Linked DNA regions of Homo sapiens. The protein of the gene in region 1 interacts with the protein of each later gene in a pairwise test. Each region holds a gene or a part of one and is shown on either strand. Other genes may lie near its edges. The genes, in order: SPRR2D and USP13.

What was found.
Region 2: the proteins of SPRR2D (region 1) and USP13 interact in a two-hybrid assay, tested with the Homo sapiens proteins (one large-scale study listed by IntAct).

Annotation. Positions count from the first base shown.
Region 1 is NC_000001.11:153,039,134-153,042,793, forward strand, and holds SPRR2D (small proline-rich protein 2D), read right to left. Parts: upstream 1,988-3,660; 5' UTR 1,945-1,987; exon of another isoform or gene 1,939-1,944; intron 1,233-1,938; 5' UTR 1,214-1,232; coding exon 995-1,213; 3' UTR 599-994; downstream 1-598. UniProt on the Homo sapiens protein: Cross-linked envelope protein of keratinocytes. It is a keratinocyte protein that first appears in the cell cytosol, but ultimately becomes cross-linked to membrane proteins by transglutaminase.
Region 2 is NC_000003.12:179,760,922-179,764,746, forward strand, and holds part of USP13 (ubiquitin carboxyl-terminal hydrolase 13), read left to right. Parts: intron 1-190; coding exon 191-334; intron 335-3,080; coding exon 3,081-3,247; intron 3,248-3,825. UniProt on the Homo sapiens protein: Deubiquitinase that mediates deubiquitination of target proteins such as BECN1, MITF, SKP2 and USP10 and is involved in various processes such as autophagy, endoplasmic reticulum-associated degradation (ERAD), cell cycle progression or DNA damage response.

The DNA.
Region 1 (3,660 bases):
TTTATAGCTGTGTAGAATTCATGGCGTATATTTATCACATTTTTAAAATCCACTCTACTATTGATGGGCTTTTGGGTTGATTCTATGCCTTTGCTATAGTGAACACGGCTGCGATAAATATACACATGCATGTGTCTTTATGGTAGAATGATTTATATTCCTTTGGGTATATACCCAATAGTGAGACTGCTGGGTCAAATAATAGTTCTGTTTTAATGATGATGTACTGCTGCTAATAGACTACTATCAAATGAGTAGTAATGATATGTCAGAAATTGTGTCAACTGAATTCCTGATATTAATTCCATTTTATGCCTAAGATAAGTTAGTGATATAAATATTATTTTCCACATTTTAAAATGAAGAGATTAAAATTCTGATTGATTTGTTCTTCAAATCAATCAAACACTAATTAAGGAAAATAAAAGGGGTTTAAAATGATATAAAAATAATCATTGTTATGGCCCAAAATTCAGATAACAATAATTGTGAAATCCTGGTCCTGGGGATCAGAGAAAGGTAGAACAAAATCCAAATAATCATATAATATTACTAATAAAGCAGATTCTAAAAGAAACAAAAGATCCATTCACAAATATATATGCATAGATACTTTATTCAGGGAGTGAAAGATAAATGACAATTGCAAAGGTGGTAGAAGCTCATGACCAGGTGACAGACAGACACAGAACACATCAACAGAATTGTCTGATGGTTCCCAGGGAGAGAGCTGCTGCTCTTTCTTCCGAAGCTCTGGGAGCTGGCACAGCTGAGGACTTCCTTTTCTTAGCTCCACCTGGACAGTGGCAGTATGGCAGCCTCAGAAAGGGAATCTTTTGCTGTCACAGATCATCACAGGCAGGCCACAGGTTAAGGAGAAAGAAGCTCCCTGTGCATCCATGGAAGGCTTTGGTGAGAAGATGCAAGTGGAGCTGTGGAACGAGGTGAGCCAATTATCCTTATCCTCTCATGCTCCTGATGAATCCTGAAGCTGTTACTTGCTCTTGGGTGGACACTTTGGCTGGCAGGGTGGGGAAGGTGTCACAGGAGGATATTTCTGCTGGCACTGCTGAGGTGGGCAGGGCTGTGGACACTTTGGTGATGGGCAGGGCTCAGGGCACTTCGGGGGTGGACATGGCTCTGGGCACTTTGGCGTGGGGCACACAGGAGGTGGCTGGCAGGGCTGCTTGCACTGCTGCTGTTGATAAGACATCCTGCTGGAGTCTCAGGATCTGAAAGAAATGATACAACAGTGTTTGTGGGAAGGGACTCCTCCAGAGAGAGAAGCTAATGCTTATGTAATACCATGAAATATTATTTCCCCATCTCCAAGAAATTATTTAAACTCTTAACTGCCTTTTCAAGACTACTTCGTTTCTCCCTTCCACTTTAGCAAATTGCTTCATTGGCCCTGGGAAATCTTGTGTTTTCTCATACAATTTTTCCAAAGAAAATATCTCTGTAGTAATGAACCAAGCATGTTATTTCTGTGAAAATAACATCTTTAGGAAAGGCAGTGACAAGTTCAGATACCATGAGCAATCTCACAAGCCATTTCTCTTATCATTATCTGTAGTAAAGTCCCAGTGGGTTGACTTGAGCACAGAACAAAGGGCTGTTTGGGAAGGATTGCAGGCTCTTGGCACCTGTTAAGACACAAACCTTTGAAAAAGACACCAGGAAAACATGGGGAAAAAATACTTTGTTCTTTTTTCTTCTTCAATTCAAAGCTTTCCTATTAACTTCTCTGTCCGTATGGACACCTAACTGTATACAAGAAACAAGCTAAAATAGCATATCACTGTACTCTAAATCTAAATTTCCATCTACTAAGTAGAATCAAACCCATGGTTACAGAATTGTATCAACCAAACTTGCTGTTTTCAGATTAAATTCAATATTTCAGGTCACAAAGAACTGAGGAACTCAAGGACTCACACTCACCAGGTTCTCCAAAGCAGATCGGTGCTAGAGTACCAGGAGTTTAAGAGTTGTGCAGCAGGGAACCTCTTTATAGGACGTTCTGCCCCACCCAGTGGGAAGTGGAACTGCCTAAAACTGGGCTGGTCCAGCAATGTCCAAAGTAAAATGCAAATGTATCCATATCTGGCATGAGAGGCATTCTCAAACTAGGAAATATCCTGTTCTGGGATCTCCCCACTGGGTTAAGTGCTCATGAGTCACAGAGAACCTGCCTTAGATCTCAGTTTCAGTGACTTTCGTCAGAGAGATAATTGGAGGGATTCTCTAACCGGTTGTCAAGGGCTCTCTTTCTTGATTGGGAACAATGATCCCTTCCTATCTTACCTCCCCTGAGTCATAAAACTTCCTGTCCTGATCCACTCTAGCTGAATGCCATATTGTTGTACATGAACCCAACTCTACCTCTACTTTCCTCATACAGTTGGCCAATGTGCTAGAAGGAAGGAGAGACTTAACAAAGGCCTGAGCTAAGCTTTTTCTTTGCTAAGTTCCATGACAACAGGCATGTCACCTCTCCTCCCTGGGATTATAAACAGGGGACAATAATACTTACCTCTGGGTTTGCAGGCTGACCACATTGTGCTATCTGCTGACCCTGTTCAAGACTGAAATTTTCTTTGCCACCTTTTTCTCAGATAAAACCTCAGATTTTTACCTATATTCCTTTCCTCTTTGAAGCTGTCTTCTGCACCACATTTGTAGCTTCTGCACCACATTCGTAGAGGCACTTGCATCCCAGGACAGATTTGAGAGTGAGATCTAGTCTCCACAGCACGTTTGCTACTTGGTGCCATCAAGGATGTGTACTACAGCCTTTTTATTTATAAAAAGTAATGGAGAGAAGGAAACTAAAGTTACAAGTATTGACTCAAAATCTATGTATGGAACCATGCATATATGGTTCCCTGTGAACATCCTATAGAGAACAAGCTGCATAGACATTATCATATGTAAATAATTAGAAGTAGGTGTGCAGAGTGAGGAAGGTAAGAGCACTTAAAGTTTAACTCAAGGGGAAAATACAAACAAAGGGTAATCCAATATGTATTCTTCCTCTCTATTTCCAAACAGGTTTTAGATGTTTCTCAGTGTTTTTTAATTTGTTTGCATGTTCTTCCTTTGTCTTTTCCATAAACCTTCTAGTCCCACAAACTGCTAGATTATCAACTCATACCCAATGTATACCTGTCATCTGTCCATTTTGGTACATATTGTTCACTTAACACATATGTTGTCAATGCATTTAGTGATTGTCCTTTCACAACTTTTTTAAATGCTTCCTACAATCAGTGAGCCTTTCTAAGTACTGTATATTAAACATTTAAAGTGATGTTGCTACTGCTTCCTTATCTGGACCATTAATCGGGAAGCTTCCCAAGAACATGGTTTTATAAGTGAATAAGAAGAAAGGAGAATGAGGAAGAGGAAAGACTCAAAATCACTGGAGCAGTCACCAACTGTGCTCCAGGAAGGGCAGAGTGTTGAATCAAGCCAGCATCACATCCCTCAGTTAAGTAGGTTAGGTTCCCAGAACAGCTGTTGCTCCTGTCAGTAAGGAAGAGCTTTTAGCCAAGATCACCACTGGCCAGGACACTACAGAAATAGAGCCATCATGTCAGCACCCTGAGGCCAGGTGATTACAAATGGTGTTCTCACCAAATGCTTCCTATAGACTAT
Region 2 (3,825 bases), on another chromosome or scaffold:
TATAAACTTAGCCCAAATAGCTTTAATATTTGTGTGGCTTAAAACAAAACTAAACAAAGTAAAACCATTATCTACACCCAACAGAATAGCACTTTCTTTGGGTAGCATGTGGATAGGAGAGTGGAGAGTAGCTAAGACAAGAAGCGACAGTTTCCTCTTTCACACTAGAATATCCTGTTGTGCTCTGTAGCATCAGACATCGATGAGTCATCAGTGATGCAGCTGGCCGAGATGGGTTTCCCGCTGGAAGCATGTCGCAAGGCTGTGTACTTCACTGGAAATATGGGCGCCGAGGTGGCCTTCAACTGGATCATTGTTCACATGGAAGAGCCAGGTAGGTGGCGAGAAAATGGAATGGCTTTGGAGTCTGATGTGACCCTCAGTGATGCTGAGTCCTGGTCCTTCCAAGGTCCCTGTGGATGTATCCCTAGAAAATGACTTTATAGTTCCTAATCTCCTGCAGTGGAGGAGAAAGCCAGTCTTTTTCTTCTTCTTTTTTTTTTTAAAAACAGCAGCTTTAGGCCAGGCGTGGGGGCTCATGCCTGTAATCCCAGCACTTTGGGAGGCCAAGGCAGGCGGATCACGAAGTCAAGAGATGAAGACCATCCTGGCCAACATAGTGAAACCCCATCTCTACTAAAGATACAAAAATTAGCTGGGCATGGTGGTGCGTACCTGTAGTCCCAGCTACTCAGGAGGCTGAGGCAGGAGAATCGCTTGAACGCAGGAGGCGGAGGCTGCAGTGAGCCAAGATTGCACCACTGCACTCTGGCCTGAGTGACAGAGCGAGACTCTGTCTCAAAAAAACAAACAAACAAAAAAACAACAAAAAAAACCCCAAACAGCTTTATTGAGATATAATTCATCCCTTTAAAGTGTATAAGTCAGTGGCAAAAAGACCAATAGAAAGATACGGGATATACTTCTAACTAAGCGATGATGAAAATTTGAAATGGAAACATGGGCATGAAGAAATGGAGGATGTTTAGTTAGCTTTTTCTTTTATCTACTTTATTAAGCTATAATGCATATATTCATCTGTTTAAAGTGTACATTTCAATGGTTTTTCATAAATTCACAGTTGTGTAACCATTACCACTATCAAATTTTAGAACATTTTGTACCCTTCAAAAGAAATCTCATACATAATAGCAGTCACTCCCCATTTTCCTGCTCACCCCAGCCCCTGGCAACCACGAATCTGTTTTCTGGATCAAGGGATTTGCCTGTTTTGGACATTTCATATAAATGGAGTCATATAATAAAAGGTCGTTTGTGTTTGGTTTCTATCACTTAGCATAGTGCTTTCAAGATTCATCTATGTTGTAGCATGTGTCAGTACTTCATTCCTTTTTACGGTAAAATAATAGTCTGTTGGGTCGGGTTTGGTGGCTTACGCCTGTAATCCCAGCACTTTGGAAGGCCAAGGCAGGAGGATCATTTGAGGTCAAGAGTTCAAGACCAGCCTGGCCAACATGGTGAAACCCCATCTCTATTAAAAATGCAAAAATTGTCTGGGCATGGTGGCGGGCACCTGGAGTCTCAGCTACTTGGGAGACTGAGGCAGGAGAATTGCTTGAGCCCAGGAGACGGAGGTTGCAGTGAGCTGAGATCACGCCACTGCCCTCCAGCCTGGGCAACAGAGTGAGACTCCATCTAAAATAATAATAATAATAACAATAATAATAGTCTATTTTATGGGTATACTATATTTTATTAATCTTTATCAGTTCATGGACATTTGGGTTATTTACATTTTTTGGCTTTTATGAACAATGCTGCTATAAACATTTTTTACAAGTTTTTGTGTGGATGGACATTTATTTTTACTTCTCTTGAGTGGAATTGCCATGTCATATGGTAACTCTATATTTAATTTTGAGGAACGACCAAACTGTTTTACACAGTGGCTGAACCATTTTACATTTCCACCAGTAATGAATGTGAGTTCCAATTTCTCCATATCATCACTAACCCTTATTATTATCTTTTTTATCATACCCATCCCAGTGGGTATGAAGTGGTATCTTGTGGTTTTGGTTTGCATTTTCCTAATGACTAATGATGTTGAACAACTTTTCGTATGTTTATTGACTGTATATCTTATTTGGAGATATGTCTATTCAAATTCTTTGCCCATTTCTAATGAAGTTATCCTTTTATTATTGAGTTCTAAGAGTTCTTTACAAATTCCAGATACGAGTTTCTATGAGATATATGATTTGTGTTTTCCCCCCCATTCTGGTGTTTTTTCACTTTCTTGATGGTATCCTTTGAAGCACAAACATTTTTAATTTTGATGATGTCCAATTTATCTTTTTTTTCTTTTATCACTTGTGCTTTTTGTGTTGTAAATAAGAAACCATTGCCTAATCCAATGGCAAAGACTTACTCCTGTGTTTTCTTCTAAGATTATTATAGTTTTAGCTCCTATATTTAGGTCAATGAGCCATTTTGAGTTAATTTTGTGTATGATGTGAGGTGAGGGTCTGACTTTATTCTTTTGTATGTGGATATCCAGTTGTCCCAGCATCATTTGTTGAAAATAATGTCCTTTCCCCACTGAATGGTCTTGTTGAAAATCAGTTAACCACAGGTATATGGTTTTATTTCTGGAATCTCAATTCTATTTAATCGATCCATATGTCTGCCTATATACCAGTACCAGACTGTCTTTTTTTTTGAGACAGAGCCTTGCTCTCTTGCCCAGGCTGGAGTGCAGTGGTGCAATCTCAGCTCACTGCAACCTCCGCCTCTTGGGTTCAAGCGATTCTTGTGCCTCAGCCTCCCAAGTAGCTGGATTACAGGTGTGCACCACCATGCCCTGCTAATTTTTGTATTTTTAGTAGAGACAGGATTTTGCCATGTTGGCCAGGCTGGCCACGAACTCCTGACCTCAGGCGATCCACTCGCCTTGGCCTCCCAAAGTGCTGGGATTACAGGCATGAGCCACTGCGCCTGGCCCAGACTGTCTTGATTATTATAACTTTGTAGAATCATGTTTTTCCTTGTTAGTGTTGTTTCAGGACAAAAAAAAAAAAAAAAAAAGGAAAAGACTTGGGTGTGGTTATTTTTCTCAGATTTTGCTGAGCCGCTGACCATGCCTGGTTATGGAGGGGCAGCTTCTGCTGGAGCCTCTGTTTTTGGTGCTTCTGGACTGGATAACCAACCTCCAGAGGAAATCGTAGCTATCATCACCTCCATGGGATTTCAGCGAAATCAGGCTATTCAGGCACTACGAGCAACGGTGAGCATGAGAGACTGTGTGTGTGTGTGTGTGTGTGTGTGTGTGTGAATTTATTTCTGTAGCAGTTGAGACTTTCCAATGTACTTTGATCATTTTGATTCATGTTTGATTCATCTAACTGTGAATCTCATCATAGCCCATAAAGATTTATTTGCATATTATAAATATAAAGCTAAAATGAATGATTTTCACACAGCGAATGAGATAAATAAATCTGGGGTAATATGAGCAAACTGAAAGAAACTTGATATCATCTTGAATGTTTGTTAACAGGGGGTCAGAAATTTGACTTGGAGGCTGCTTGTGGCCCTAGAGGAAAGAGGGATGCATGAAATTCCATGTTCAGTAAGAAGTCCTTTAGGAGATAGAATGCTTTTCTGATACCAAGACCTTGGGTAAATGTCTCTTAAAAGTCCTCATAGAAAACTGAATGGCTCCTTGGAATTCTCTGCTGCTGTTTCTCTCTGCAGAAAGAGAAGGTTCTTCTGGTAGCCATGAACTTCTTGATACCAAGAAACAAGGGACTCTGAAACTACAGGGTAGACAATTCCCTTCTGCAGTGCTGATATCTGTTTAAT